Homo sapiens: one gene and its partners. The protein of the gene in region 2 purifies or fractionates together with the protein of the main gene of each other region. This does not show direct contact. Each region holds a gene or a part of one and is shown on either strand. Other genes may lie near its edges.

Region 1 (7,899 bases), on a different chromosome or scaffold from region 2:
ATGAATCTAATTGGATGTGAGTGGTCAAGATCAAGGCTGTAATTAATTCTTTATTTTATTTCATTTTTTTAACTTTTCAGATCAGCTGTATTTCTGGCATCTCTTCTACTGATTACTGGAGATACCTCATGTGTCTTTATTCTGGTCTCAGTTACTCTTCTGCTCTACTGAGTTGCAATCTCTGGCTAAGTCTTAACTCCTTCCTTCATTTACTATGGATACTGTTGCCCTGTCTTTTCCTCACTGTTGCCCTGTCTTTTCCTCATTCTCTTTCTTAATAATTTTTTGGGGAATAAATGTTATACCTTGTGGTCTTTGCCAAGCAGAAGAACAGGACATGAATTACTGTTAAACCACAGGGAAATCTATTGTCCTTTTCCACTGTTGTTCACCCAGGGTTGGTTTCTCTGCATTATGGTCTCACCAAATGCAATTTTTTAGAATGGCACTTCCTTGAAAAGCTCTATTAATTTGTTATTCACTTATGTCTGACTCTTCCCACAGCTTGGGCCCTTTTTCTTTCTGCATTCAATTTTGTCAGAAGGTGGTGGCTTCCCAAAGGAAGGGTTGAAGGACAGACAAAATTACTATGTCTACTTCTCAATTCCCAGGCTATTTCAAAGAGAAATTTGTTCATACATTTCTAGTCATACTTAGTAATACCTGGTTAGAAGTTTAATGGGAGGAAAAACATTATATTTGTCTTTAAGATCAAGTGGAACACTGAAGTTTGATGGGAGGAAAAACATTATATTTGTCTTTAAGATCAAGTGGAACACTGCCTTTGATGGCAGACCTCCTAATCAAAGGGCTTTATCCTAAGAACCTATAGAGATACCCTTAATCAATTTTTCTCACTTCTTGCCTTATATAGAGAAGCAACACTGGGTTGGGTAAACTAAGTGATTTTAAAAAAAGAACGCATAAACATTCTTTATGATTAGCAAAAGATATTACAGAAATAATTCTCATGCTAGTTTCTGGAGAAAGCAAAGCTAAAGAAAGCCATCTAAAAAAGCTGATGTATCGGTCAGGAAAAAATATGGCAGACTCTTAACTGTGAATTGAAGAAAGTGAAGGAACTGTTTATAAAGGTTTGAGCAGGGTTATAGGACTCTAGAGGAAACTATAGAATCATGTTCACTGGATGCATGAAAAATGTAGTGCCATCCAACTGTCTTGTCACAGTAGTGCACCAACTTTGGAGTCAGACCGATAAGGGATCCAATATCAGCTTTACCATTTTCTATGGGTGTGATCTTTGGCAATTAAAAAAAAAAACTGTCTGCATTTCAGTTTTCTCATCTGTAAAATTAAAGATGATAATATCTCTAAAGGTTTTTGAAAGAAGTAAATGAGAAAATGTAGCTCAAATTGTAACAACATCTGACACAGTGCAAAAACCATAACTATTAAATCTAGTTATCCTCCCTTATTTTATTCCTATTAGAGATATTATAAAGTTGGCCACAGAAACTTATTATTGAGGATCACGTTTGAGGATTATTGAGAATCACGTTTGGCTGTAAGTAAATAAAAAAAAAAACAAATAAAAAAGCTAGAAGTTTATTTCTCTTTCGTACAAAACCAGGTCTAGACAGGCCAAGTTTGACATGGCTGTTGTGTTCTAAAAAGCCCACATACACCTTCCATTTTTATGTTTTGTCATCCTTACTGAGTGGCTGTTGTCTTCCTGGTTCAAGATAGTGGTCATTGCATCCTTGTTGGGTGTGGCAGAATGAAGGAAGTGAGGAAGAACTGGCAAATGGAGAGCAGCAGCAGTCCCTTTAGGAAGGTTCTTGACAGCTTATATCTTACTGGTCAGAACATAAGCTGCAAGGGAGGCTGGATGATGGATGTACTTTTCCTTTTTTTTTTTTTTTTTTTTTTTTGAGACAGAGTCTCACTCTGTCACCCAGGCTGGAGTGCAGTGGTGCAATCACGGGGCTCACTGCAACCTCCTCCTCCCGGGTTCAAGTGATTGTCCTGCTTCAGCCTCCCAAGTAGCTGGGATTACAGGCACGCATCACCATGCCCGGCTAATTTCTGTATTTTTAGTAGAGATGGGTTTCACCATGTTGACCAGGCTGGTCTCAAACTCCTGACCTCAAGTGAGCCATCCACCTTGGCTTCCCAAAGTGCTGGGATTACAGGAGTGAGCCAGCGTGCCTGGCCTCAATTTCTCTCTTTCTTTCTTTCATCTCTCCTTCCTTCCTTTCCTTCCTCTCTCCCTCCCTTCCTTCTTTCTTTCCTTTCTCCCCTCCCTTCCCCTCCTCCCTCTCCTCCTCCTTCCCTCCCTCCCTCCTTTGCTTGCTTGCTTCCTTCCTTCCTTCCTTCCTCTCTCTCTCTTTCTTTCTTTCTTTTTAAGACAGGGTCTTGCTCTGTCACTCAGACTGGAGTACAGGGGTGTGATCACAGCTCACTGCAGCCTCTGCCTTCCGGGCTCAAGTGATCCTCCCACCTCAACCTCCAGAGTAGTTGGGACCACAGGCACGCCACCACCCCCAGCTAATTTTTAAATTTTTGTAGATATGGGGGTCTCCCTATGTTGCCAAGGCTTGTCTTGAACTTCAGGACTCAAACAATCCTCTTGCCTTGGCCTCCCAAAGTGTGGGGGTTACAGGTGTGATGGAGCTTGAGCCTAGCAGTTGAAGACCAGCCTGGACAACATAGGGAGACCCTGTCTCTACAAAAAAGTTAAAAAGTTTAAGAAAAATTCCCGTACACTTGTTCTTTTTAATGCAAAATGTAGAGAAAGACAAAAATTGTAATTCATCTACATCTAATCTCTTTTACGCAAATATATACATTTCATTACAGTCTAGGGCCAGTATGTCTATGAATTAGTGACAATAAATATTGAATAATGAGACTACTATCTACAGCGTTCTCCTATTGGGTACTTCCTGAGTTATAAGCAGCTACTAGTATTCAAGTTTATATGGCAACATGATAGTTTTTCTTGGGGAGTAAGAGTTGTGTTCAAATTTATAATACAGTGCCATTTTCTTGTTCTCCCTATACAGCAGTTTTTAAAAACTAGAAAATGAGACAATCTTTTATTGGTAGCACTCTGTAATTCTGCGTCTAGACTTAGTTATTTGTAGTCTCCCTAAAGGAGCACATATTTCCCCAATGTTCAACATTTTTAAATTTTCTTATCTGGCTACCCCAAACCCCTCCTCGCAGCCTCCCCTTCTCAGGTCTGCCCTTACTATTCCAGGCCCCACAACCTTGCCTCCTCTAAATTAAAATGTTAACTATCAGGCTGAGAAGTAACCAGATAAATTAAATTCCTTGACCAGTTAATGACTAGTAATAGCTCGACAGATGATCTCTCTGAAGTGTTTGTATTCTTAAGACTCTCTAGGTACAAAGCATTCATTCAAGGTACTGCAGCTTTGTATATAGAATTTCAGGCACACTGGCAGGTATGATTATGACTTCTTTTGGTGGGAACAGGACTCTTTTAAATGCCCCTTAGATTAAATCCATTCAGTCCACTCCTTCTTTCTTGTTGGAATATTAAAATGAAGATTTCTTTACGAATAGTAGATATAGTAGCTTTAAAAAATATTTTAAAGCTATTCATTACAATTTCCTTTTCTTAAAGAGTTTTGATAAATCCAGTGATGGCTTATTACTCTTAGAATGTCTTATTGAATGTGGCGGGACATTTTGTTACTGACTTAAAATTAATGAATATAATATAAAAAATTAACATATCGAGAAAAGGCAAAGCCAAAAATATTAGAGGCCTGAGTCCTCTTGGCTGAAGTTTCTCACCTCAATTACGTAAGTCCTCAGTTAGTTCACTTTTGGAATCATGTCTAATACATTTGACAAGGGAGTAGCCTTGGAGTGTCGCTAAGAAGAAATTGATCAGGAAAAATGAGATGGCAAAGAAGAATGTTTCCAAGAAGAAGTGGGATTTAGGGTGGAGGCTGTAAAAAAATGGGAGCGGTTCCTTTAGGCATTGAACAAACATTTATTTTTTGCCTTCCACATGCCAGGACCTACTGCGTCTCCTCCGGATGGGTGCTCCTCGCCGACAAAGTCTAGATTGTGATTATCTCAAGGACTTGAGTTACCCTCACTTCCGACCTCCTCTCTCACAAACTGGTTCCAGGCGGGGAGACTGAGGATGGGCTGGGGAGGCTGGCAGAGGCGATCCCCACCTCGCGGAGCACAACATCTGCTGTGTTCTGCGGCGAGCGCCTGTCAAGCAGTGGGAGGAAAAAGCGCTTGGAGCCACCAGCCCACTCTTAAGCGAAACTCGCCTGGAAAACACCCCGCCTCCCAGCAGAGTTTCTGCCGGTTTCTTTAGAAGGGTGGTGCGGAAAAGCAACTTTTGGGAACTTGAAGGAGTGGGGTGTGGGGCGAAGTGGAAAGAGCACACAACGCGACCCCACTCAGTCCCCGCTTGGGACTCCCATCCCGGCATCAGGCGTAGTGGGCGGTCCGGGCCAGGGCCAGGGCCAGAGCGGCGGCGGCGAGGCCATGCCGAGGGCCCGTCGGCCGCAGTTCCCCGTCCGGCCTCGCGGGGGCGCCGGCGCTGCCGATCAGGTGACCGAGGGCCCGTCCGGGGCTGCGGGAAGCGGCCTCGTTCTCAGCCGCCGGAGACGCCGCCGCCGCCGCCGCCGCCGCCACACCTAGTGGAGCAGCCGGGGAAGGCGGCTCGTTGGGGGCTGGGGCGGAGAGCGCCGGGGGTGGGGGCGGAAGGGCGGCGGGCGGAAGGCAGGAGGCTGCCGGGGCGCGGGCTGCTGCGGGAGAAGGGGCTCCGAGGAGTCCGCCGCGGCTCGCTCTGTCGCCGGCGCGGGATTGGGGCGCGAGGGCCATGGGCGCGCTCTCCTAAGGCGGAGGTCGCGGGCGGGAGGGGAGGAGGCCCGAGAGAGGCTGCTGCGAAGGCCGCGGGCCCGTGACTGGGCGCGAGGCGGCCGGCGGCGGCGGCGGCACCAGCACCACCATGTCGCGCTCAGTGCTGCAGCCCAGTCAGCAGAAGCTGGCGGAGAAGCTCACCATCCTCAACGACCGGGGCGTCGGCATGCTCACCCGCCTCTACAACATCAAGAAGGTGCGCACGGGCCGGGGAGGCCGCGGCGGAGGCGGGCGGGCCCGGGAGGGATGAAGGGCAAGGGAGGCCGTGGGGTGGGGGCGGCAGGAGGCGCCGGGTGTAGAAATCTCGGCGTCGCCGCCCGAGGCCCGGCCCGGGGTCGCCTGGATGCGCCGCGGCCTAATGCGGAGTCCCGGGCGCCTCTCCCTGTGGTTCGCCGGCCGGCCGAAGGCAGAGAAGCCATTTCCCGGCTCCCGGCGGCGGGATCGGGCGCTGGGCCTCGCACGGGGTGGGGGCGCCGCTGGGAGCCGGGAGCTGTCCCCTCCTCGGCGCCCCCGCCCCCATGATGGGGCCCATAGGAAAGGGAGGGTGGTGGGTGGGCGAAATTCTAGGTGGGTAGGAAAACTTGAGTGTTCCATATTCTTACGGAGATGGCAGCAGTGAACAGGGATTACACCCCACATCCCCATTTTTTGGTGTGGGAATGTGGGTAGAGAAGGGCTGATTGGATGAATCCCGTATCCCCTCCACTTTGCCACTTTATTTTAGATTGCTAAATAAAAAGCCATTGAGAGTGTGTTGACGATTTGGGATTATTTCATTTTGAAGGTGGAGAGGAGGGGGAAGTGAGGGTGGAACCAATTTTCTGAAATACTTCTAGGCTGTGAGTCACTAGAACTGGAATAACAACCTTCTACTCTTTCCCCTGTACTCCTCCTCATGTTAGATTTTCCAATACCATTTCTTAAAGTTCGGTGTCTGTACAAAATAAAAACCGTAAAAATGTTGCAATTGCTGCTGATTTATAGCATAGTCTGATAATTTGAGCAACTATAGCTAATAGGCCCATTTAAAGGCTTTTACATGTCCTCAGTACAGTAAGGAGTGGAAGACCACTGGAAGTTTAGAAAAGTCCATGTAAAGATAGAACAAATAATTACATTCATTATCGTAGGACAAAACAACAAAATCTCTCCCCTTAAGGCAAGGTTGGTAAGTTTTAAACAATTTGATAAAGAGAAAAAGAGATATTTGGAAAATTTAGATCCATCGAGTTTCCAATGTGTCTTTGATGTCATACCTTCATAACTATTTGTTGGCTTTTTAATATATCGTGAATGTTACCGTTTAGTTTAATCATAGCAATAGATTGTAGGTTGAGAGGGCTTCTGAAGAAAGGTTTTTTTTTTTTTCTTTGGAAATTCATTTCCAAGCGTTTGAGTGTAAAATTGATTTATTTTTTACAATTTGATGTAGACACTAATTCTAAAGAGTGTCCTGGTTTAATGATGATAAATTTTGGATAAGGACAAAGTCTGGTTGCTCACCTAATTGCAAGGCTTTATTACTCTAAACCCAGTGCTATCTGGAGAGTAACTGCAACATGCTTACTCAGTTTGTTACCTTTTATGTGGCAGGAGCTCAGTGTCATGACAAAGAAGCCCCTCTGCATTTACCAAGGAGCCTAGGTTATAAATTTATATAGGTTAGGAATAATTCAGTTTTAAATAGTATTACTTAGAGGTTGCATTGACCTGAACTGTTCGGGGAGATTGTGCTGCTTAAAAAACTTGGAAATTGATTCCTATATGAATTTTGTCCAAAAATGAACAAGTCAAATATTATAAAAGTTACTAGACCTGTGGTATTGTGGTTTAAAGGAAATGGTTATGATGGTTTCTAAAAGAGGAAGTGAGAGTAACATCAAAAGTGATTTGGGTATTTGGGCAAAATACCTTTTCTAAGCATTTATTAAACATTTTTGTAGGATAAATGCAATCAAACTTTAATATCCCACCTTCATAAATAAGATTAAATGAAATTCTGGGCATTTGAACTCTAATAATTCCAGTTCATTGCCTTTTCTCAAAAGCACTGTTTTTTTCACTTCCTGTTTTGGGAAGCTTCAGCCTCTTGTATTATTGAACTTGTGAAAGTTAAAATGCATTGAATGTGATCATTATTATATCCATGTCAAATATTTTGATTTATTGAAACGTCATATTTTAGCACTTGCCTTATATTTTTAGTTTCTTAAGAAATACATTGCTTACCTTGCTTGAGTGTGAATTTTCTCTGGGCAGGGACAGTGTAATTTTTGAAATACTAGAGTATTTAGGGCCTTATCTGATACTCGAGGCCTTCAGTTAGGCCAGGTTGAAATGAATGAATTACTTCCCTCCTCTCTCTCAAAACCTGTGTGCTCTAGTTTTAATAATAATACCCTTGGGTTTGCTCCCTTTGTGTAATTTTGCATGTAAATGAATCAGATAAGATTTTGGATCTTTCAGCCTATAGAATTGTCTGTGAGTCTGGCATATCTTCCCAGCTGGCTAGGAATTGAAACATTTGTTCAAATATCTTGCCAAAGAAGTGAGTAAGATCTGTTCACCATGTGTTTATTAGGTTCATGCTGTCTGCATTCTTACTGCATTATAAACCACATACTCTTTTCAATCTCAACCTCTTCTAGTCTTAAAAAAAAAACCTTCCACCTCATAATACATGTTTGCCAATCAATTATCACATTTTCATTAATGCATGTGCATTAGATTGTCTACCAGATCTAATTACTCTGTTTCAATTGGAAGTATACAGTGGAAATGATATTTTAGTGAACATATACAATGAAAAATAGTTAAGTAAAATAACTTATTATTGTCAGTAATATGCTTTGGCGCTTATTAGGGAAGTTGGAGCATGATTACTGAAGAATGTTTTTTTTTTTTAATTTCATCAGTCAAAAATTTTGAGATCTTAATATTTACAATTTATGGGAATTTTAGGGAACTTGTAGTTTGACGGAGGATGTAGGAACACATAAAAGCGGATTTTAGGGAAAAGAC
Region 2 (7,436 bases):
AGGTGCACTCCTTTTTCCAGAAGGAAGAGGAAAGGAAAGGAAACTAACATTTACGAGTGCTTCCTATGTGGCAGCAACAGCAAAAACAACAGCAGCCCCAACTCACATTTTTCAGTGCTTCCTTTGAGCTTGGCGCTGGGCTAGACCTTCTCTGTTATCTCTGAATCTGCTCAGAACCCTGCCTGTGCCAGTACTATTACGACCCCCATTTTATACTAAAAGAAACTGAGGGTGGGTTACTCCAGTGAGTGGCAAAACCTGGCATCTTAACCTTGGTGTCACATGGACTGTGTCTTTTTTTTTTTTTTTTTTTTTGAGATGGAGTTTCGCTCTTGTTGCCCAGGTTGGTTGGAGTGCAATGGTGCAGTCTCATCTCATTGCATCCTCCCCACCTCCTGGGTTCAAGCGATTCTCGTGCCTCAGACTCCCAAGTAGCTGGGACTACAGGAGCACGCCACCACGCCCAGCTAATTTTTGTGTTTTTAGTAGAGACAGGGTTTCACCATGTCGGACAGCTGATCTCGAACCACTGACCTCAGGCGATCCACCCACCTCGGCCTGTGTCTTGATTGAATCCTGCCTGTGGGTTGGCCTCTCTGGCTCTGAGATGTTGGGAGTGGCACCTGGTTTCTGGTGGGAGGGAAGGAGATACTTGGGCTTTGTGTCACCCAGCTGGCTGATGGACGGACAGCCTCCTGGGTAGTAGCATTTTCAGGCTCTAAGTTTGGGAAAGTTCCAGGCTTCTGACTCATTTCTGCATCCCATCCCACCCTCACAGTACTTTCCCAAGCACCACCAGGCCAAAGGTCTCTCAGTTCAGAGCAGAAAGCCGTATACCCAGAGGAGCAGGCAGATAACAGAAACTTCCAGAAACCTCTGTGGAGACAGTGGAAGAGGCAAAAGGTACTGCTGCCTAGACAGCGCTTCCCATTAGGAAGAGTAGCCAGGGAAGTGGAAACTTCAGGCTACCCCCTGGGCTTGGAGCCCTGAGTCTGTCCCCAGGGGCTGACTTCCTGCATTCCTCTAGGGAGTTCCTGACAGCTGGATTCTAGAAGTAGAACTATGAGCTCACCTTTGGCCTCCCTTAGCAAGACCCGAAAAGTGCCCCTGCCCTCGGAGCCTATGAATCCTGGGTAAGGAGCCAGCCTCAGGGGTCTTTCTGTCCCCGCCTCTGTATCCTCTTCTATCCTTCCATGGCCAGAGGACAGTGACTCCTAGTGTCTTGGGGAATACAAAGAAGGGCCACATAGCCTTCCCTGACCACTGTCTTTTTCTTTATACCTTCTTCTGGGGCACCCAACTTTGGATCTGAGCATAAACTGGGTTGTGCTTTTAGTAAGGTATGGGCCCTGTAGGAGTGGCTTGGCATCCCATCTGTTCATTCACTGTTCATTGATTAATTCTGCAAACACAGATGGTCTACGGACCTATCCTGGGCCAGGCCCTGTGTGGGGTTCAGTAAAGGGAATCTTTTACATCTGTCTAGCACTTTCATGTTTTCAAAACATTTTTTACCTCTCTTCCTTCTTGCTCTCTGGAATACCACTTTGAGTCTTTTTTTTTTTTTTTTTTTTTTTTTTTTTAAAGACCAAGTCTCGCTCTGTCGCCCAGGCTGTGGATTGCAGTGGCACGATCTTGGCTCACTGCAACCTGTGCCTCCTGAGTTCAAGCGATTCTCCTGCCTCAGCCTCAGTAGCTGGGACTACAGGCGCATGCTATAACACCTGGCTAATTTTTTGTATTTTTAGTAGAGACGGGTTTCACTGTGTTACCCAGGATGGTCTCGATCTCCTGACCTCGTGATCTGCCCACCTCGGCCTCCCAAAGTGCTGGAATTACCAGCCACCGCGCCTGGCCCCACTTTGAGTCATTCTAAGGCCTAGAAGATTCAGAGAGGTTAAGCAACAGGCCTCACAGCCTTTGCAGAGCAGAGCTGGGGCTGAGCTCATGGGCTTTGCAAGCCTTGTAGTCTTCCCACCTAAGACTCTGCTCTTCACCCCTTCCCCATCCTTCTCCACTGGGTGAAGTCAGACACCTCGAAGCCTGTCCCTTGTCTCACCCCAGGCTGGGGCTGGGATTTGGGGCTGGAAGTCCTCAGGAGTTAGAGGCCCTGCTTCCATCTCTTTGAGCTTTGGCTGAAGTCCGGTGCCCAGAGCCTTATCCCTGGTATCATTCCAGGGGCCCTAACTTATATTTCTTCCTTCTTCCTGCCTGGGTTCCCAGGAGGCGAGGAATCCGCATCTATGGAGATGGTAAGTGTGCCCCGCCCTCGTGCCCTCTTCGCCTCTCATGTGCTTGCACCTCCTACAGTTGGACCGATGGAGAGAAATCACACGAGAAAGGCCCTTGTCAGCTGGAGCAGCGGCCTCCACCGTGTTCTGTGCAGCTCCCATGCTGTCCTCCCTGAGGGCTGGGCTTCCCTCCTGGAAGCTCTCAGATTAGGAGGCCCCATACCCTTGGCACAGATGTTGCCACTCACATTTGAACCCCTTGACCCACTGTGGGACTGGCCAGTGTGTGCCTAGAAACCAAGTGAGGGCCAAGAGATTACCCAGCCCAGGGGTTTGGATCCCAGCCCCCCTTCCCCCTCCAGCCTCCTCCAGTGTGACAGCCTTTCTCCCGGGAGGCCTGTCCACACATTGCCACCCTGACTCTTGTAGCTCAGGCCTTTGGATCCCTGCCCCCCAACTCTCCACCATGGCATTGGCATTGGCCATGCCAGTCCCCCTGGGAGCAGGACTGGAAGAACTCCAAAACAGCCCCATTCTGGTTGGATCCTTGCTCCCCAGCCTTGTGAATTCTCTCTCCTCAAACTCCCTGGGGCACAGTGCATAGGCCGCGTCACACTGGCGAGGGCCCAGGGCCTGAGTTTCCTCTGGGTCTCCGCCCCAGAGCGGTGACCTAGGCATCCCTGTCTGCAGAAGATGAGGTGGACATGTTGAGTGATGGGTGTGGCTCAGAAGAAAAGATCTCAGTCCCTTCCTGCTATGGCGGCATAGGTGCCCCTGTGAGTCGGCAAGGTGAGAGCAGAGGCCTGAAGGGTCTGGGTCCTGGCTGCAGGAGGGGGCCCCAGAGACGGGGCAAGGCCTAGGGAGGCATGGCCCTTCCTCTCGCCTGTTTGGTCTGAGGCAGCTGCTTCCACTCCTGGCTGATTGTGGCAGGGACCTGGCTTGGCATAAAGCCACACAAGCCCCACCCTTAGCTCAGGAGGCCGAGGCCCAGCCCCAGCCCCAGCCCCAGGCCAGGCTGTGGCTATAGTTACCAGGTGTGATATCAGTGGGCTCAGGATTCAGGGTCAGAGAGGGATGAAGTCTGAGGGTAGAGCTCAGCTTCCTGCTTCTGCAGGGCTCTGGCAAGGCCCAAAGTCGCCTAGACAGTCTGCTTAGCTTGGCAGAGGGCTGTGGCAATGCTGAGCTCATGGAGGCACCTAAAGTGGGATGGGGCTAATCAGGGTGGCTTCCCAGAGTGGGGATTTAGCAGGTCTGAGAAAAGGGGAGACATGGGCAGGCAGGGATGAGCCCTGCAGAGTGCTGGGCGGGATCTGGGGATGCTGGGGATAAGGTTAGAACTTTCCACTAGCTCACTAGCTGTGGTATCTTGAGCAAGCAACTTCGCATCTCTCTGTCTCTGAGGCCTCCTCTGTGAAGTGGGCATGGGAACAGCGAGGGCAGCGTGTTGGGAGGATTCAATGAGATGCTCCTCGGTGGAGGGCCCCTGGCCAGCGCCTGTCACGCGAGGTGCTCAGTGTGGTGGCTGCCCATCAGGAGGCCAGCCATAGGGAAGGGCCTGATGATTCTCCCTCAGGCCCCTTCCATTTTACCGGAGGAGGGAATTGAGGTGGAAAAAGAGACAGGAAGAGCCTGGCCTAAGGTTCTGCGGCCATTTCACCACAAAGCCAAGATCTCCTATACCCTGGCTGGGGTCAACTTTCTTTTTTATTTTATTTTTTTTGAGACAGGGTTTTGCTCTGTCATCCAGGCTGGAGTGCAGTGGTGCGATCATGGCTCACTGCAACCTCAGCCTCCCAGGCACAATCAGTCCTCCTGCCTCAGCCTCCCAAAGTGCTGGGATTACAGGCATGAGCCACCATACCCAGCCAGGTCACTTTCAGTAGTAACCATGGCAACCAGGTTCTCTCTTTGAAAGAGCTCCAGGTGTCCTCTCCCTGCTTTCCCCTGTCATCCCCTCCTCTCCCACTCCCAGCCAATATCTGTCCCTACCAAGGTAACAGATGAGGACTTGCCTATCTTATTTTACTTCTCTGCCAGCAGTGTCCTATACTGTCCACTGCTCCTTCCTTCTCAGGACCTCCACCAAGCTCTTAGGCACCAAGCTGCTGCCCTCCCATTACCCTCTGCTTCTAGGCTCTGTCTCTTAGCTGTCATCACCACCTCCTTTTTTCTCTCAGGTTTTTTTTTTGTTTTTTTTTTTTTTGGAGACTGCCTTGCTCTGTTGCCCAGCCTGGAGTGCAGCGGTGCAAATCACTACTTACTGCAGCCTCGACCTGTCAGGCTCAAGCAGTCCTCCCACTTCAGCCTCTCAAGTAGCTGGGACTACAGACACACACCACCATGCCTGGCTAATTTTTGTATTTTTAGTAGAGACAGGGTTTCTCTATGTTGCTCAGGCTGGTCTCGAACTCCTGGTCTCAAGTGATCTGCCCGCCTCGGCCTCCCAAAGTGCTGGGATTACAGGTGCGAGCCACTGCACCCAGGCCCTCAGCTTTTCAATGTGATGTTCCTCTGGCCTGGATTCTCCTCTGTGTCCACTGTGCCCCAGTGAGCTCACCTGCACTCCATGTGTAGACAGTTCCCAAATGTTTGTCAATTAAGATGCATTTAACTATAAGTCAAAGAAAACCCTTCCTCAGCCAACAAGAACATTAAGGAAGTTTTGTTATCCCACATGCAAAGAAATCCTAAAGAGGCAGCTCCAGGGGTGTTAATTCAGTGACTCCAAGACATCATCAGGGGCTCAGGTTTCTCCATCTTTCCACTGAACCTGCCTTGACATGTCAGCCTCATGTGGTTGTAGGATGATGGCCGCGGTTCCTGCTTCATACATAGAAAGGACACTGTCTAGGGGAAGAAAAGGAAAAGGCCTGCTTCTTCCTGTAGGTTTCTCTTCTTTTCCATTTTCATACTTTTTTTTTTTTTTTTTTTTTTCTGAGACAGAGTCCCTCACTCTGTTACCCAGGCTGGAGTGCAGTGGTGCGATCTTGGCTCACTGCAACCTCCGCCTCCTGGGTTCAAGCGATTCTCGAGTAGCTGGGATTACAGGCACCTGCCACCACGCCCGGCTGATTTTTGTATTTTTAGTAGAGGCAGGGTTTCACCATGTTGGCCAGGCTGGTTTTGGACTCCTGGCCTCAAGTGATCCACCTGCCTTGGCCTCCCAAAGTGCTGGGATTACAGGCATGAGCCACCGCATGCCCGGCCCTGGCTACTGTTTTCTACAGCACCCCGCATTCTGGCTTTGTCTGGCAGTTTGCCCGTGGGGTATTTGCCTCACTCCTCTATCTGCTGTTTTGCGTACCAACTGGACACTAGATTTGGAGGTTTGATTAGATCGAGGGTGAAATTCTTGGCAATGCTTCAGGGTGATGTCACCCATATGTTACACCACTTCCTTGTATATGTTGGACAAATTACTTGATCCCTTTGTGTCTCAGTTTCCTAAAACAGTTCATTTACCTCCTGGGTGTGTTTCAAGGATTACAGGGGGTTGATCTACATGAAGTGTTTAGAACAGTTCCTATGATGCCAGTGGGAGCTGCTCTCAGTACCTTCATTTCCATTCCTGGGACCCCTATCCTCCTCCCTCCCCCCCACAACTCAGCCTCGGCTCTAGGTCTGGGCTCTAAAGACTTTGTGTGCTTGGCAGTCCCTGCATCCCATGACTCGGAGCTGATGGCCTTCATGACGAGGAAGTTGTGGGACCTGGAGCAGCAGGTGAAGGCCCAGACTGATGAGATACTGTCCAAGGTGGGGCTCCAGGTGGGAGAGGGCCAGGGGCCGGTCTGAGAGGTGGAGGGACTGGGCTGGGGAGGCCAGGAGTTGGACTAGGGTGGGTGATTCTAGAACCGTCTACCACACTGACCTGCCCAGTTCGAGGACCAGGTGTGGCCTGGGCCTGATCTAGGTCCTGTGACCTGAGCCGAGAGGCTGGGGGGTCTTCCCCTCAGCTGAGCAGGACCCAGTAGACCCTGGACTGGGTGGCACAGTGGACTGCTGAGCAGAGCGCGGCACCCTCAGATGTGGGGGTCCTCAGGTGTGGGCCGCACCTCTCCCTACCTCAGAGGAACTGCGAGGGTTATCTGAGGTCCGGGAGAAGTGGCTGTGCCAAAGGGTGGCAGGGGCTTGCTGCTCCCCAGCATCCAACATAGGCAAAGCTCTGGAGCTTCCTGTCTGGGCAGGGCTCTGGGAACCACAGGCCCTGTGCTCACCCTGTGTCTTATGCTACAGGATCAGAAGATAGCGGCCCTAGAGGACCTGGTGCAGACCCTCCGGCCACACCCAGGTAGGGGGCTCTTGGAGGGCTGACCTGCGCCCCCAGTCAGGCACCTCCCCTGGGCCCAGGGCTCCTGGAAGCTTCACAATGGCTTCTGGCATCAAGAGCATCAAGCTGACTACTTGGTGGGGTCTGGACAGCTGAGCCCACAGAGGGGCTGCAGCATATCCAGGACAGTGCTGGAGTCACTCCATGCCCTCCTACATGGGACCGAGTCCCATCTGAAGTGTGGAGGAGAGGAGGCTCTGAGGGGAGTGGCAGCCTCCTAGGGCCCATCAAGGCACCGCCACGGGGTCAGAGGAGAGGCCAGAGAGGTGGGGGGCCAAGAGGCAGTTCTTGGGGGATCCCCAGAACAGCTTCTCCAGATGACCCTCAGGGCAGAGGTGACCTGGCAGTGTCTTGCTGGGGCAGCTGAAGCCTGTCCCTGTCTTTCCCTGAAGCCGAGGCAACCCTGCAGCGGCAGGAGGAACTGGAGACGATGTGTGTGCAGCTGCAGCGGCAGGTCAGGGAGATGGAGGTGAGAGAGCTGGGCCCCGGGGGATGCGGGCAGCCAGCAGTCCCCAGCTCTTCACGGCATGTTCCTCAGGAGCTGGGTCCGAGCCCACCTCTCTGGGCCTCTCCTCGTCACATCCCACCCAGGGACCCTGCCCTGCATTTCCCTACCCAGGACTGGCCCAGACTTTAAAGAGCCAGGGAGGTGTCTGGGGCTGGGGCACACCCCTGCTTTTGGGCCCTCTGAACATGCCTCTCCCCTGCTTAGCAGACCTCATGGCTCCCACTGAACTGAATTCTACAGTCCTCGCTGTGGCCCCTGCGGGCTGGCCCCTGCATGCCTCTTCATCTTAGCTTGAACCACTCTCCCCTCCAGCCATGAGGCCCTTCCTCTGGGTCTTTGACCTCATGGAGCTGCTTCCCACCTCAGGGCC
Region 3 (7,436 bases), on a different chromosome or scaffold from region 2:
GGCTGAAATTTAATATTGTTAATTTATTTTTGATTTCCTACAGGTGAACTGGCACAAAGGTTAATCTCAAGATGCCGCTAGTGAAAAGAAACATCGATCCTAGGCACTTGTGCCACACAGCACTGCCTAGAGGCATTAAGAATGAACTGGAATGTGTAACCAATATTTCCTTGGCAAATATAATTAGACAACTAAGTAGCCTAAGTAAGTATATATCAATTAAAAATATACTCACAAACCAGAATGTTATGCTTTAGCGTATTAAGAAGTTGTGCTTCTGATTAATTTGGGAGTATGATTTGGTGAGAAGAGTACAAAATTATCCTGAAAAATATAGTCACATGAGTATAATTATTGAGTTTTACAAGAACCTCTTCTGCATGATGTTTCTTCTGGGAAAGGAAAATACGGACAGAATCTCTAGGAACAGAAACACATGATGAATGAAAATTATTGAGATTGTTTTAAAAATATATAATCTGCGAAAGGACCAGAGTTGTACTTTTCCTTGGTTATTATCACTATTTACTCTGTTTAGAGGCCTCAACTATTTGTGTTTTCAAACACTAGTATCCCTCTCTTTATATATATATTTAATTAGTTTAGGGAAATATTTTTATATTAGCAAAGATCTAAGGTGAGAGGTATGGGGTCATTATTAGTCAGAGGGGTAGGCTAGTCAAGTGGGATGTCTAAGAGACATTAGGATATAAGTCAGGAATCTGATATGCAGCATTGTGTGAAAACAGCAAATGAACTTGGCCTCTGGCAGACAGAAGTCAAGCAGGTTGGCCAGAGAATAAAGGCCAGTGAAAGAGGCAGATTAGGGAGAAGGAGACAGGCAATATGTTCTCATTGCAGATTTACAGAATAGAGCAACTTGGTTAAGGAATTAAACAAATTATTTTCTATTCTAAGTTTATTTAGAAAATTTAAAAAATCTGGTCTGTCTTTTGCATTGAAGGATTAGCTTTTTCATAAGACATTGATATTTCATTTTAAAGGTGAAACAAGGTGTTCTTGGCAGAGATAATATCCACCAAGTGGTCCTAGATTTATCTCATCAGCCATATAAATTCTCCTGATAAGCAGGCTTGGCTTTTCTTTTCTTTTCCTTTTAACTTTTGTCCTTTCTTTTATAATTGAGTACTTAGCACAAGAGGTTGTTAATCTAATTTGTTTCCGGTAAGAAAGTTTAGGCATACCTGTAGCGAGAGCAACATAAAAAGTTACATTTGAATATTCTCTGTGAGAGTACTAAATTTTTGCATTGCCTGTGAAATAGTAAGAATAAATAAAAGGCTATTTTATTTGAATTTTAAGTATATTCCTTGTTCCATTCAGTGGTCATTTTTTTCAGGTTAGTGAATCACTAAAATATTGTATTGTTTACTTGAGGCTAATAAAAAAAGTGTTAGAGTTCCCAGTTTAAATATGATTAACTATATTGTTTAAAGATATTTTGCAGATTTTTTGTGACCTAGCACGGATTGAATCAAGTATAACATGATGTCATATAAAATTTGTTTTATATATGTTATGTACATACATAAGTATATAAGCATGCTAATATTAAAATACATGTTAAGAACATAGAAATGGCATTAGTAATTTTGTATAACATATTTCTTAAAATGAATTGTGGATCCAGTACAGGCATCTTATTTTAGGTATATACCCAATATAGAATTTAGAACTAATATTGTGATTAAGGGTGATAATTTGCAGTACTAACCCATTTGTTACAAAACTTAAAGATGAAAATTTAAGGAATTTTTAAGTCTATATAGTCCATATAAGCAACATCTATCAGCAGGCACATGGTTATGCTGTAGCGAAACTCTGAAAATTATAAATACCTTGTAACAATATAACTAAATTAGGTGTTGGGTGCTTCACATTTAGAATCAGAGACCTGGAAGGCATTGTTTAAGCAGTTTGTAGAGATTCAAAAACAAAGAGAAAACCCATAAAATATTCTAGCAAGGTGTGACAATAGCTTACTGCCCTGAAATTAACTTCTCTGGCAGCTTTCCCACTTGACATAGTTGAGAACCTGGAATTAAATTTAAAAGGCCTCTAGATAGCCAGAATAAATAAACTCATGCACTAAAGACCATGCACATAAAATAACCAATTGATCCCTCTCTCAAAACCTGTTTACTTTTACCTTGATAGTTCAAACAGATTTGATGATGTGGTTTCCAAACAGTTATGCTTCAGAGGATAAAAGGAGGAAGCATGGGAGGAGATACTAGAAGGAGGCATCACTGAACCCAACCAAAAGGAGGTAGTTCACAGGAAAGGACAAAGTGATGTAAGGGAAGATGCAACATAAAAACTGGAAAGAAGCCATTTAATGTAAAGCAAATATCCTTATACATTTCAAGGCTGTTTTCTGGCCTAGGATAATATTTGATTTTCATAATTCATGCCCGTGAGTCCCTAAGAAAAAATTAAATTATGTTTAATTTTATATTCCATTTAAGAAGAGGGAAGCTTAGAATACATTTCACAAGTTTCCATCGAAAATAGTTAAAATAACAATTGATGTATTAGATAATAAAATCTGAATTACTTAGAAAACTTGGCTATCCAAAATGTTTCTAGATAATGGAGATTTTCACTTTGGTGCTATTATTAGTACTGAAAGTGCTTGAGAATATAGCAATGAAAGTAAACTGCAGGGATCCACATGGCTCAGGGCTGGATATCTTCCTGACCTTTTCCTCACAAAAATGTACTTCCTTTTTTTATTTTTTTGAAACAGAGTCTTGCTCTGTCACCCAGGCTGGAGTGCAGTGGTGCGATCTTGGCTCACTACAAACTCCACCTCCCAGGTTCAAGCAATTCTTGTACCTCAGCCACCAAAGCCGCTGGGATTACAGGCGAGTGCCATCATGCCTGGCTAATTTTTGTATTATTTTTAGTAGAAATGGGGTTTTGCCATGTTGGCCAGGCTGGCCTTGAACTTCTGGCCTCAAGTGATCCACCCGCCTCGGCCTCCCAAAGTGCTGGGATTACAGGTGTGAGCCACCATACCCAGCCAGTACATCTGTTTTTTGTGAGATTTTTCCTAGTAGAACATAATTCTGTTTTGTATTAGGTAATTACCACAAACCTATAATTCACTTTATATCAATTTCCTCTTTCTCATTTTATTGCTTTCTTAATGATGCAAGGTTTTTTACTCCTTAGCTGAGCTAGGTCCAGGTTCTTGTCTCACGATGAGGAAGAATTAGGCACACAGATACTCTAAGAGTGAATGGAGTAGAATTTATTAAGTGAAAGGAAAGCTCTCAGCCAAGAGAGGGGTCCTGAAAGCAGGTTCCAGGTTGCCCCGTCACAGTTGAATACAAGGGCATATATATATATATATATATATATATATATATATAGAGAGAGAGAGAGAGAGAGAGAGAGAGAGAGAGAGAGAGGAGAGAGAGGAGAGAGAGGAGAGAGAGAGAGAGAGAGAGAGAGACGCTGATGGGGCTGGGTTCCCTATTTGTATGAGGCACAGATTACTGGTGGCTTCACCACATTTCCCTAGTGCACATGCAGGCCCTTAGTCTGCTGTGGGCATGTTTAAGCAAGCCCCCTGTGCAAGTTCCCTTATCTGCACAAAGCATCTGGTGTAAGCCCTTGTGGGGTGGGTCAGAGGTTCTCTGGGGACCCTTCCCTTACTGTCTGCCTAAAGCAAGCTAGCTAACTCCTTTCATTAACAACCACTGGGATTCTGAATACCTAAGGGATCTCTTCCCCTGGCTTTTCTCTTATGGAATATAGTCAGTTCTTATTGCCAAGATTAGTCTTTTCCATCTCTGTATCTACACCTAGCATTTGTATCCCTACCAATTGTTGAATAAATGAGTAACTTTATACCTGCTTTTTCTTCCATTTGGGATGCTTCCCTTATCTGCCAGAGAAACTGTCTCTGGAAGTATCTTGATCACCAAATAACTTTTGACACCTGAAAGTGAGGTGCTTCTATCTCTGCTGTGTTGCTCTTACCTTATATTAAGAGCTGCCTGTTATTGGGCTCCTCTGTATGAGGTGCACTTCAAGGCTCTTTTCTTGCTTCTTTTAGAGACAGATGTTTTTATTCCTATTTTACAGATAAGGAAATTGATACCAAGGTCTCACAGTGAATAGAACAAATATTAGGACTTATCTATTAAATTGCTTTAAATATTTGCTTAAATGTCTGGTTCTCCCTCTGCTCAAAATTCAGTAATGGCAGGGATCTTCTTCAAGTTATTTTGGCTTACTCTTTTCAGTAATAAGAACTTACACAACTAGAGGAATACAGTGATTTTAGATTTATGATTTTTTTTTTTCAGAAGTTGTAACAAGAGGGTGTAAAAGATCTCCTAAATTTCTGAATCTATATCTTGGGCATCCCTGGGACAGATAATCTTCTAGGTCTTTGATGAATCTTGGGTTCTGCTACTTGGCCTAAAATTTATTTCTAGCTAATATAAATGCTGATTATATATAAATGCTGATTATATATAAATGCTACAGTCTACATATAAATGCTTTCAGATTGACAGGCATATTATTTGCATATACCTTTACATCATAATCTTCTCTAACCCTCATCAGGTGGACAGATATAGATAAAGCAAGTAATTTCCATTTTAGACACAAATCATTTAACAGAAAGTAGTAGAACAAGGTTTAAAAGCAGGCTTCCCAGGGTATCTCTTTTTTTTTCCCCACTTTGTCATGGCTGGGTGACTTTAGATAGGGTTTAAAGTTTAAAATACAGTTGGCCCTTGAACAGTGTAGGGGTAAGGGGCACAGATCCTCAGTGAAGCCAGAAATTTGCATATAACTTTTGACTCCCCCAAAACTTAACTGCCTATAGCCTACTATTGACCAGAAGCCTTACCGAGAACATAAACTGTTGCTTAACATGTATATTTTATGTTGTATGTGTAGTAGTATACTGTATTCCTACAATAAGGTAAGCTAGAGAAAAGAATATGTTATTAAGAAAACCATAAGAAAAAATATACTTACTGTTCATTAATTGGAAGTGGATCATCATAAAAGTCTTCATCCTCGTTATCTTCACATTGAGCAGACCAAAGAGGAGAAGGAAAAGGAGGAGTTTGTCTTGCTGTCTCAGGAGTAGCAGAGGCAGAGAGGTGGAGGAGGTAGAAGTAGTAGAGGTGGGCACACTGGTGTAACTTTACAAAAACACATCTTGATTTCTGACTTTTTTGCTTCTTCATTTCTCTAAAAATGTTTTTATATGGTACCAATCCTCCTTTTATTTGCTTTAGTTTTGGTACTGTATCATAGAAGGGTTCACGTTGTAAAATAAATCAAAAGTAGTCTTGAATAATTGGAACGCTTTTGCCAGATTCTCTAATGTCAATTTGTTTTCTGACACCACTTCTTCTATGTCTTCTTTTTTTTTTTTTTGGATTCCATTTTTTAAAATCGGAGATCTGCTTCTTTACTTTCTTTCTTATTTATTATGATACTTTAAGTTCTATGGTACATGTGCATAGTGTGCAGGTTTGTTACATAGGTATACATGTGCCATGGTGGTTTGCTGCACCCATCAACTCGTCATTTACATTAGGTATTTTTTCCTAATGCTATCCCTCCCCCAGCCCCCGACCCTCCGACAGACCCGGGTATGTGATGTTCCCCACCATGTGTCCATGTGTTCATGTTGTTCAATTCCCACCTAGGAGTGAGAACATCTGGTGTTTGGTTTTCCAACCTTGTGATAGTTTTTTTAGAATGATGGTTTCCAGCTTTATACATGTCCCTGCAAAGGACATGAACTCATCCTTTTTTATGGCTACATAGTATTCCATGGTGTATATGTACCACATTTTCTTAATCCAGTCTATCATTGATGGACATTTGGGTTGGTTCCAAGTCTTTACTATTGTAAATAGTGCCACAATAAACATACATGTGCATTTGTCTTTATAGTAGCATGATTTATAATCCTTTGGGTATGTACCCAGTAATGGGATCGCTGGATCAAATGGTATTTCTAGTTCTAGATCCTTGAGGAATTGCCACACTGTCTTCCACAATGGTTGAACTGACTTACACTCTCACCAATAGTGTAAAAGTGTTCCTATTTCTCCACATCCTCTCCAGCATCTGTTGTTTCCTGACTTTTTAATGATCACCATTCTAACTGGCATGAGATGGTATCTCCTTGTGGTTTTGATTTGCATTTCTCTGATGACCAGGGATGATGAGCATTTTTTCATATGTCTGTTGGCTGTGTAAATGTCTTCTTTTGGGAAGTGCCTGTTCATATCCTTTGTCCACTTTTTGATCGGGTTGTTTTTTTTCTTATAAATTTGTTTAAGTTCTTTGTAGATTCTGGATATTAAGCCTTTGTCAGATGGGTAGATTGCAAGGATTTTCTCCCATTCTGTAGGTTGCCTGTTCACTCTGATGGTAGTTGCTTTTGCTGTGCAGAGGCTCTTTAGTTTATTTAGATCCCATGTGTCTATTTTGGCTTTCTTGCCATTGCTTTTGGTGTTTTAGTCATGAAGTGTTTGCCCATGCCTATGTCCTGAATGGTATTGCCTAGGTTTTCTTCTAGGGTTTTTATGGTGTTAGGTCTTACATTTAAATCTTTAATCCATCTTGAGTTAATTTTTGTATACGGTGTAAAGAAGGGATCTAGTTTCAGCTTTCTTCATATGGCTAGCCAGTTTTCCCAGCACCATTTATTAAATAGGGAATCCTTTCCCCATTTCTTGTTTTTGTCAGGTTTGTCAAAGATCAGATGGTTGTAGATGTGTGGTGTTATTTCTGAGGGCTCTGTTCTGTTCCATTGGTCTATATCTCTGTTTTGGTACCAGTACCATGCTGTTTTGGTTACTGTAGCCTTGTAGTGTAGTTTGAAGTCATGTAGCGTGATGCCTCCAGCTTTGTTCTTTTGGCTTAGGATTGTCTTGGCTATGCAGGCTCTTTTTTTGTTCCATATGAACTTTAAAGTAGTTTTTTCCAATTCTGTGAAGAAAGTCATTGGTAGCTTGATGGGGATAGCATTGAATCTATAAATTACCTTGGGTAGTATGGCCATTTTCACGGTATTGATTCTTCCTATCCATGAACATGGAATGTTCTTCCATTTGTTTGTGTCCTCTTTTATTTCGTTGAGCAGTGGTTTGTAGTTCTCCTTGAAGAGGTCCTTCACATCCCTTGTAAGTTGGATTCCTAGGTATTTTATTCTCTTTGTAGTAATTGTGAATGGGAGTTCACTCATGATTTGGCTGTTTGTCTGTTATTGGTGTATAAGAATGCTTGTGATTTTTGCACATTGATTTTGTATCCTGAGACTTCGCTGAAGTTGCGTATCAGCTTAAGGAGATTTTGAGCTGAGACAATGGGGTTTTCTAAATATACAATCATGTCATCTGAAAACAAGAGACAATTTGACTTCC
Region 4 (7,436 bases), on a different chromosome or scaffold from region 2:
TCCTTTGCCCCCGGTCCGCCTGCGGAGGGGCCGCCCAAGTCCAGAAGCCCATCCTGCTGCTGCCCTACATATATGGGCGGGGAGAGGGCTGGGCCAGCCTCGCCACGCCCCATAGGAACCCCTCCCTCCCCAGGCAGCCCCCCTCACCCACCTGGTACCATCCCTCCCCAGAGCTCAGTCCAAGGGTGGTTCTGGGAGGGGCCTCACCAGCCAGGGAGCTGCCCTCCTCAGCACCTGGGGCAGCTCCCAACCCAGAGACCAGCCCAGGCAGCCTGGTGTGTCGGTGGATCCCCTACCAACTGCAGCTTGGCTGCGGCTGTGAGGATGAGGGCAGGGCTGAGCCCACCGTGGAGGAAGTACAGTGTCACATGGCAGGCTGGGAGGGGCCTCTGCCAACTCCCTGTCCCTCAACTCCCACCACCAAGCCCAGGCCACGAAGACACCGTCCTGGGCACTGCCAGCAGCTTTATTAGAGAGCCCTGTCCCCTGATTAAAAGTGGACACGTGCCCACGGGGGTCTCCTCCTTCCCGGTGAGGGGCTCAGCTGGGGTGCCCCTGTGGCACCACTCACAGGCCAGGAGCCAGGGAAGTTCTGGGGAAGCACTTTCCCAGAAACCCACCCCAGACCCCAAGGTAGCTCAGGGCTTCTCAGAGGCAGGCCCAGATCCGGTCCCACCGCAGGGACCAACCATGGGCCCCGCCTGCCTGAGGCCTGCAGCGGGCCAAGCCGGCTGGCATGGGCTGGCCTATTCTGTTGGGTGGGTTCTTGGCCCACCAGAGCTGGACAGGCAGGTGATCAAGCCACGTTGGGTGTGCTGGGGGCCTCCGTGGGCACTCACTGGGGCTCTGGCCAGAAGACCTGCATGACGCTCTGCTTCCTGGAGGCGGTGTGGCAGGCTGGGCACATCCTAGAGGCCTGTGAGACAACCGGCCCACTGCACACGTCTGCCAGGCGTTGCCACCAGGACAAGGGCCTGCCCTTTCCCCCTCAGCCCATCACCTGGGGCTACACCCAGCAGGAACTGTAGTGGCCAGGCACCAACCTGAAGGTGCCGTTGCCAGCAGGCTTGGCAGCGCTGGAAGTCACAGGCAGGGCACTGGAAGGGCACCACGTCCTCTGCCCCACAGCCCTGGCACACACAGCCTGCTGAGAGGGGCCCGCCCGGAGCTCCCGTGGCCTGCTGCCCAGCGATGTCTCTCCCATGAGGCTCACCCCACTCAGATGCTGCAGGCCCGTGGGGAGGTCCTGAGGACTGGCTGGGACCTGCATCCTCACCGCCCGCCCCCACAGTCCCTGCTGGCCTCTGTCTAAGGAAGGACGAGATCTTGCTCTGGGTCTTCCCGGTCTTCTCGGACCGTGAGGGGCCTGGAGACAGAGACTTGAGTCTGAGGGGGGCCTGGGGCTTTGCTGCTCACTCCCAGGGCTGCGTGCGGTTGGGGCGCTGCCAGGAGCAGCCAGGCAGGTGCCCTACCTGGTTGGGGAGCCCTGTGGGTAAGCACAGGAGGCACGGCAAGCCTCTCCTCCTGGGGTCCCGGTGGCTCCATGCCCGGGTAGGGCCGGCCGGTCAGGTCTGTGCACGTCTGTGAGAAGCGCTGCTTGTGGTGTGGACGCACAAACATGCTGAACCCTGCGGGGAGCTTCAATCAGACCCGGCACAGCCCCCATTTTGTCCCCTGCCCCCCACCCCACCGGCTGTTCCCCACGCCAGGGCCACTTGCTGTGCAGCAGGGGGAAGTCCTCTGGCTTTGCAGTGGTCAGGGCGGCCAACACAGCCAGCACCTTGTCGAGGTCGTCGTCTTGCTTATAGGCTGTCAGCGCTGCCAAGAGTTGGCTACAGCCCGCGGACCCCAGGGCCCTGCGGGCATCAGCCAGGTAGGCGCTCACGGCGTGCTGGCCCTGCTTCCCTGCTCTGGGCACTCCAGACCCCCACTGTGGTTGGCTGCCAGGGTCTCCTGGTGTGGGAGTAGCATGGCTCAGAGTGGCGCTGGGGTGGAGGACTGAGAGTCCCACCGCCCTGCCCGCCCTTCCTCCAGGAACTCCTGGAGAGCTGCTCAGGACAACTGCGGGGTGCAGAACCGGGAGCAGTCCCCACCATGAGATGGCTCCCCACAGGGGCAGCCCCGGCCACACTCAAGAGTTAGCCTCGTGAAGCCACTGAGGGACCCACCAAGTCGTAGGCTGCACACGGTTCAGGAGTCAGCTACCTGTTGGGGGTGGCCTGGGCGACAGGTGGGGCCTGCCCTGGTTCAGGTGCTCTTGGGGGTCCAGCTGCTGGGCTGCAGCCGTGGACACGGTCAGCTTGGGATCCGGCGCCGTTCTTCCTGATGAAGAGATGTAGAGCCACAAAGCTGGTCGAGAGCATCTGGAAAGTTCCCTGGGGTGGGGGGGCAGGGCTGGCTAGGGAGGCCAGGCCTCACCCACCTCAGACCAGGGCGGGAAAACCCAGGCAGGTACACGCCTGGGTGCTGGGGGCATCAGAGGAGACACCAGCCTGCTGGATGGGGGCTGGAACAGTGGCGGGCAGGCCAAAGCCCCACTCAGGAGCTCAGAGCCGTAGGCTGGGTGCAGGCATGAGGATATCCCAGTGAGTACCAAGCCCAGAAGGGATCTGGGGTCGTCCCAACAGGCTAGGTTCCCCCCTGGGTGAACTAGGGGAACTCTGTAGGGGCTGTTCATTAACACACGAACACAGATGCTTCCGCCTCTGGAGACTTGGACTCCACCCCAAACAGAGGCAGAAACAGGGAGGACAGGGGTCTAGGACCCTAGGACCCTGGCGTGTGCAGTTGACCCCCCAGGACCATGCATGGGAGGCAGGGGACGTGTGGCAGTTGGACAGGGCTGTGCTTAGGGGTCGGGGCTATGGCAGGGACAGGGCTGTGCATGGAGTTGCACAGGGTCTCCCCAACAAGTGATGCTGCTGCTGGTGGAGGTGGAGGTGGTGGTGGTGGTGGAGGTGGAGGTGGTGGTGCAGGTGGTGGTGGTGGAGGTGGTGGTGGTGGTGGTGGTGGTGGTGGTGGTGGTGGTGGAGGTGGTGGTGGAGGTGGAGGTGGTGGTGGTGGAGGTGGTGGTGGAGGTGGAGGTGGTGGTGGTGGAGGTGGAGGTGGTGGTGGTGGAGGTGGAGGTGGTGGAGGTGGAGGTGGTGGTGGTGGTGGTGGTGGTGGAGGTGGTGGTGGTGGAGGAGGTGGTGGTGGAGGTGGAGGTGGTGGTGGAGGTGGAGGTGGAGGTGGAGGTGGAGGTGGTGCTGCTGGTGCTGGTGGTGGAGGTGGAGGCCCCCATCACTCCCATAGGGGAACAGAGAGGCGGGGCCAAGCAGGGCCCGAGGATGCCCACCCCAAGCAGCCCAGGACTCTGGCCCACACTGCCTTCCACGCAGGAGTCTGAGGGTCCCACCTGGGGCCCCATTTACCAGTGGGGTCCAGGACCGGCTGTGCCCGCTGCCTTCGGGGAATGCTGTGCTCAGGCCGATAGCCACAGCCTCGTCCTGTCAGCTGGATACAGACCTCCTCAAACTGCTGCTTATGGTGGGGCCGCACAAACTGGTAGAAGCCTGTAGAGGAAGGGGCGTCTGTCCCCATCTGCCCCTTTTTCTCTAGAGAACAGAGACCACCTTGGACCCAGATGGCCCCCACCCCACACGCGGCGGCAGCACTGCCCTCAGGGTGGGTGGCCTCTGCAAGCCAGGGCACCTTGGAGCAGGTTGTGCTTCTTGGGGTCCTCAGCAAAGAGGGGGCCGAGACAGGCGGCCAGGGCGGCGAAGTCATCGGAACCCTTGTAGTCCTGCAGGGCCTGGGTGAAGGTGGCAAAGTTGGCTTGGCTCAACTCCTGCTTCACGGCCACCATGAAGAGCTTGGCCCTGTCCGTCTGTGCACCAGCCACGGGCTCCTCCTGCAGGACACAGGCCCGAGGCTCCATCAGGGCCAGCCTCATCATCTGGTCCCTGGGGCTGCAGAGCCTTCCTTGGAACATTGAGCGTTCCCTGGGACAGTGACTGCCGAGGTGGGGCTGCTGCCTGAGAAACTGGCTGGCTGGATGGACATAGGGAGGGGCTGCGGGAAGAAAGCTGTGGGGCTGGGCCCGTCTGAGGTCACACAGTGAGAGGCTGGCAGGGAACTGAGAGCAGTGAATGGGCAAAGGGTAGATTGGCTCTGCCTCAAGCCAGGGGTCCTGCATGGCCCGTCTCTCTCCTCCTCCCTCAAGCCCCCTGCCCCACAGCGGATGCGGCTGAGGCTCCCAGGATGGCAGCGCACAAGGAGGGGCTTCCGGATGAGCAGTGCCCATCTCTCTACACACCCCAGACCAACACGGAAACGTGGAAACCAAGGCAGGGGCGGCCCAGGCACTCCCCACCCAGGCCCTCGCCAGCCCAGGCCCCTCAGCAGCCACCCACTTCCTGATGGCACCAGCCCTGCCTGGGCACCACCCAGTTCTTCCCAGAAGCCAAGGGACATGGACAAAGGCCGCCACACTTGGGGTTTTCCAGCAGGCAGGGGGCTTCCTGGCTCCGGCTATAACTCCGTTCTTTGATCCAAGGCTAGGAATGGGCTGTGTCCCTCACATGAGGCAGGTGTGCATCCACACTTGAGGGAAATGCCAGGGCCAAGCCCAGTGCTGCAGGCCCCATGCCAAACCTGCCCAAGGGTGGGGCCTGATTCCAGCTGGGACTCATGAGCCCCCTGCAGAAGAAACCACACACTTGAGCCCCTGGCCGTCAGCATCACAGCTGCCCTGGACATCAGCTCCTGGGGGTGGATTCCCTGGTCCCATCGGGACCAGCCGTGGCTGGGGGCACCCACGGCTGCGTTCCCATGCGTGTCTATGGTGGTCGGCACAGGTGCAGGGACAGCTCACGCACCGGGTGGCTGACCAGCCGGATCTTCTTCCTCCCTCCTCGCGGTTCTTCTGCCGGCCTCTTCTCAGACAGGAGGGACAGGGTGGAGCAGCTGTGGGCCTGAGGAGGACACAGCTCACAACCACACACAGACCCCAACCACACACTCTGGGGTCCCAAAGCACCTGGACGCACAGGGAAGATGGTCCCAAGGAGCCCTGAGCCAAGATGGAGGTCGGGGGAGGGGGGCACAGCACACCCCGGTGACAGTGCCACAACTTGGTCCTGTCCAAGTCACACCAGCGGCTCATGAGGCTCGCAGGTGGTGACTTGTAAGAGCAGGTCCAGGGAAGACAGTCCGACCACAGCGAGGGGCTGGCAGGAAGGGGACACAGGTGCCTGGTGCCTGCACCTGGAGCTCACTCCAGGGGCCTGAAGGGCAGGGATGGGCAGGAAGAGGGGAATGGCTCCCAGCAGGAAGCAGGGAGAAAATTTCGGGTTGGCCTGAGGAATTATGGGCTTCTGGGGCAAAAGGCCCCAAGGAAGAAGGAACCTGGGTTCCACCCGCAGCACATTCCTGGAGAAAGGCCAGCCTCAAGCGCAGCCAGTGGCAGGGGCACCCGACCTTGAGTGCACTGAGCCAAGCTGACCCGCCAGAGAACCAAAGTGATGTGGGGGGCACCCGCGGAGGGCCAGGGCATGCACCACCTGGGAGCCAGCAGCCTGTGGGTGAGGTGGGGTGGAGGACCCACAGACAGCCAGGCAGCTGGGATCCCCCGCCCGCTTGCCCGCCTGCCTGCCAGGCAGGGGATTTACAGGGGTGTGTGGGGAGGTGCCTGAGGCCAGATGGGCGGGGTCGGGTTGGCCTCAGGAGACAGAGGGTCTGTGTCCATCCCAAGGCCCTGGAACTGTACCTGCTCCTCGCCAGGGCTCCCCGCCCGCTGTTCGCTGTGCTCCAGGGCGGCCAGCAGCCCCCTGGGCCTCTGCCGGGCAGGAACTGGCTCCTGCTCATACTCCACACACAGGCTACTCTCGGGGTCCCCGGCAGCTGGTGACCCTGCAGGGGCACCCGAGTGCGCAGTGAAGCCCACGGGGGGCCCCAGCTGGGGTCCCTGCCTGTGGCAAAGCCCCTCTTGGGGGAGAGTCCCAGCACTTGGGGTCCTGCCTGTGGGTGTCCTCCCTGCTATTGGGGGGAGTCTCAGCCTCGGGGGGCATCCTTGCCTGGGGCGTTCTCTGCCTGTAGGGGAGGGTTGCAGCCCGTGGGGGCCCTGCCCTAGGAGGGAGAGGCAGCCTTTGGAGGTGGGAGGGGAAGCGCACAAAGCCAGGTGAGTCGCCTCCGCCCTGGGCGCCTGGTGCTGCCCGCCCCACGCCGCCCGCTCCGCCACCCCCACACCGCCCACCCAGCGCTGCCCGTCCGCACCTGAGGACCTCTGCTTCAGGCTGGGGACATGCAGGTCCAGACTCTTAGCTTTCCTGGTGGAGAAGAAGGGGCCAGGCGACTTGGCCTCGCTGACAGCATCTTCTCCACGCACACTGGGTGCTGTAGCCCGGGGGGCCGGCGCTGGCATCTGCAGAACCATGGGGGTGGGTGGACCCATTTCTGGCTCCTCTGGGGACAACACCCTCATCCCCTCCCTGGGCAGGAACTCACAGTTCGCTCGGCAACACGGAAGAACTGGGCCACGTCTCGGATGACATGGCCAAAGTTGTCATACACCCTGACGTGGGGACGCACCCAGGAGGGCAGTTGGGCTCTTGCGTCGGCAAAGGCGAACCTGGGGGGTGGCCATAGCCCTGCTGCCCTGCCCACAGCCGCTTCAAGGGTTCAGTTCACCGAAGTGAAGACCCTCATCTGCTGCAGGGGCCCCACGCTGACCCCGAGTAGCCGGAGAGGCTCTGGAGGAGACGGGGCCTCATGTGGGGAAGGAGAGTCCAGGGGCCCAGTGGGGTGTGGGCGTGTCCCCTGGCGCCGCGCCTGCCACCGGACTGCACGCACCTGTGGTCACAGAGGAAGACAGCTCCGTAGTCCTGGCGGTGCCGGATCACTCGCCCGATGGCCTGGTTCACAGCCCTGGACGCCTGCTGCCGGTACCACTCCTGCCCAGAGAGGAACTGTGGGGCGAGGCGGCTCGGTCACGGGGGCTCCCTTGGCCACGGGGCGGGGGCTCAGTCACCAGACCGCCTTACCCCAGCCCCACCCTGCTGTAACTCACCTGGCCCCCAGCCCCACCCTGGCCCTTCATCTCATCCAGGAACTGCATCTTGAGGACAACCCGGGGGTCCATGCGTGGGGGGTACGGGAGGCCCGTGACAATCACACCACGGCCATTCGTGTCTGAGAAGTCCAGCCCCTCGCTGGCCTAGGGGACACACCAGGGAGCTGCCTGGGGCCGTGGGGGCTCCTCTCCCTGGTGCCCACACCCAGCCCAGCCACCTTCCCCGAGGCTCCGTCCCCAACCAGGGGTGGGAGGAAGCTCCATCTGTGGGTCAGGACCCCACTTGGGGTCCACAGCTCCCAGACGCCACCTCCAACTCTTGTGGCCAGGAAACTCCCATCCTGCCTGCCCAGGCCCAGAGCAGGACACGCTCCCAGCAGGGCCAGCA

What was found.
Region 1: the proteins of UBXN11 (region 2) and NCKAP1 purify together in Homo sapiens (affinity purification with mass spectrometry; 2 studies listed by BioGRID and IntAct, with this or other methods). This does not show direct contact.
Region 3: the proteins of UBXN11 (region 2) and WASF1 purify together in Homo sapiens (affinity purification with mass spectrometry; 3 studies listed by BioGRID and IntAct, with this or other methods). This does not show direct contact.
Region 4: the proteins of UBXN11 (region 2) and RTEL1 purify together in Homo sapiens (affinity purification with mass spectrometry; 3 studies listed by BioGRID and IntAct, with this or other methods). This does not show direct contact.

The regions. Positions count from the first base shown.
Region 1 is NC_000002.12:183,035,167-183,043,065, reverse strand, and holds the start of NCKAP1 (nck-associated protein 1), read left to right. Parts: upstream 1-4,608; 5' UTR 4,609-4,966; coding exon 4,967-5,074; intron 5,075-7,899. UniProt on the Homo sapiens protein: Part of the WAVE complex that regulates lamellipodia formation. The WAVE complex regulates actin filament reorganization via its interaction with the Arp2/3 complex. Actin remodeling activity is regulated by RAC1.
Region 2 is NC_000001.11:26,296,510-26,303,945, reverse strand, and holds part of UBXN11 (UBX domain-containing protein 11), read left to right. Parts: intron 1-778; exon of another isoform or gene 779-903; intron 904-1,027; 5' UTR 1,028-1,062; coding exon 1,063-1,133; intron 1,134-2,223; coding exon 2,224-2,252; intron 2,253-2,921; coding exon 2,922-3,020; intron 3,021-5,883; coding exon 5,884-5,984; intron 5,985-6,464; coding exon 6,465-6,519; intron 6,520-6,950; coding exon 6,951-7,027; intron 7,028-7,436. UniProt on the Homo sapiens protein: May be involved in the reorganization of actin cytoskeleton mediated by RND1, RND2 and RND3. Promotes RHOA activation mediated by GNA12 and GNA13.
Region 3 is NC_000006.12:110,120,237-110,127,672, reverse strand, and holds part of WASF1 (actin-binding protein WASF1), read left to right. Parts: intron 1-43; 5' UTR 44-71; coding exon 72-204; intron 205-7,436.
Region 4 is NC_000020.11:63,689,258-63,696,693, reverse strand, and holds the end of RTEL1 (regulator of telomere elongation helicase 1), read right to left. Parts: intron 7,193-7,436; coding exon 7,046-7,192; intron 6,945-7,045; coding exon 6,829-6,944; intron 6,608-6,828; coding exon 6,484-6,607; intron 6,401-6,483; coding exon 6,253-6,400; intron 5,890-6,252; coding exon 5,747-5,889; intron 4,953-5,746; coding exon 4,857-4,952; intron 3,890-4,856; coding exon 3,691-3,889; intron 3,552-3,690; coding exon 3,411-3,551; intron 2,323-3,410; coding exon 2,206-2,322; intron 1,954-2,205; coding exon 1,720-1,953; intron 1,629-1,719; coding exon 1,473-1,628; intron 1,367-1,472; coding exon 1,044-1,366; intron 917-1,043; coding exon 836-916; 3' UTR 449-835; downstream 1-448. UniProt on the Homo sapiens protein: A probable ATP-dependent DNA helicase implicated in telomere-length regulation, DNA repair and the maintenance of genomic stability. Acts as an anti-recombinase to counteract toxic recombination and limit crossover during meiosis.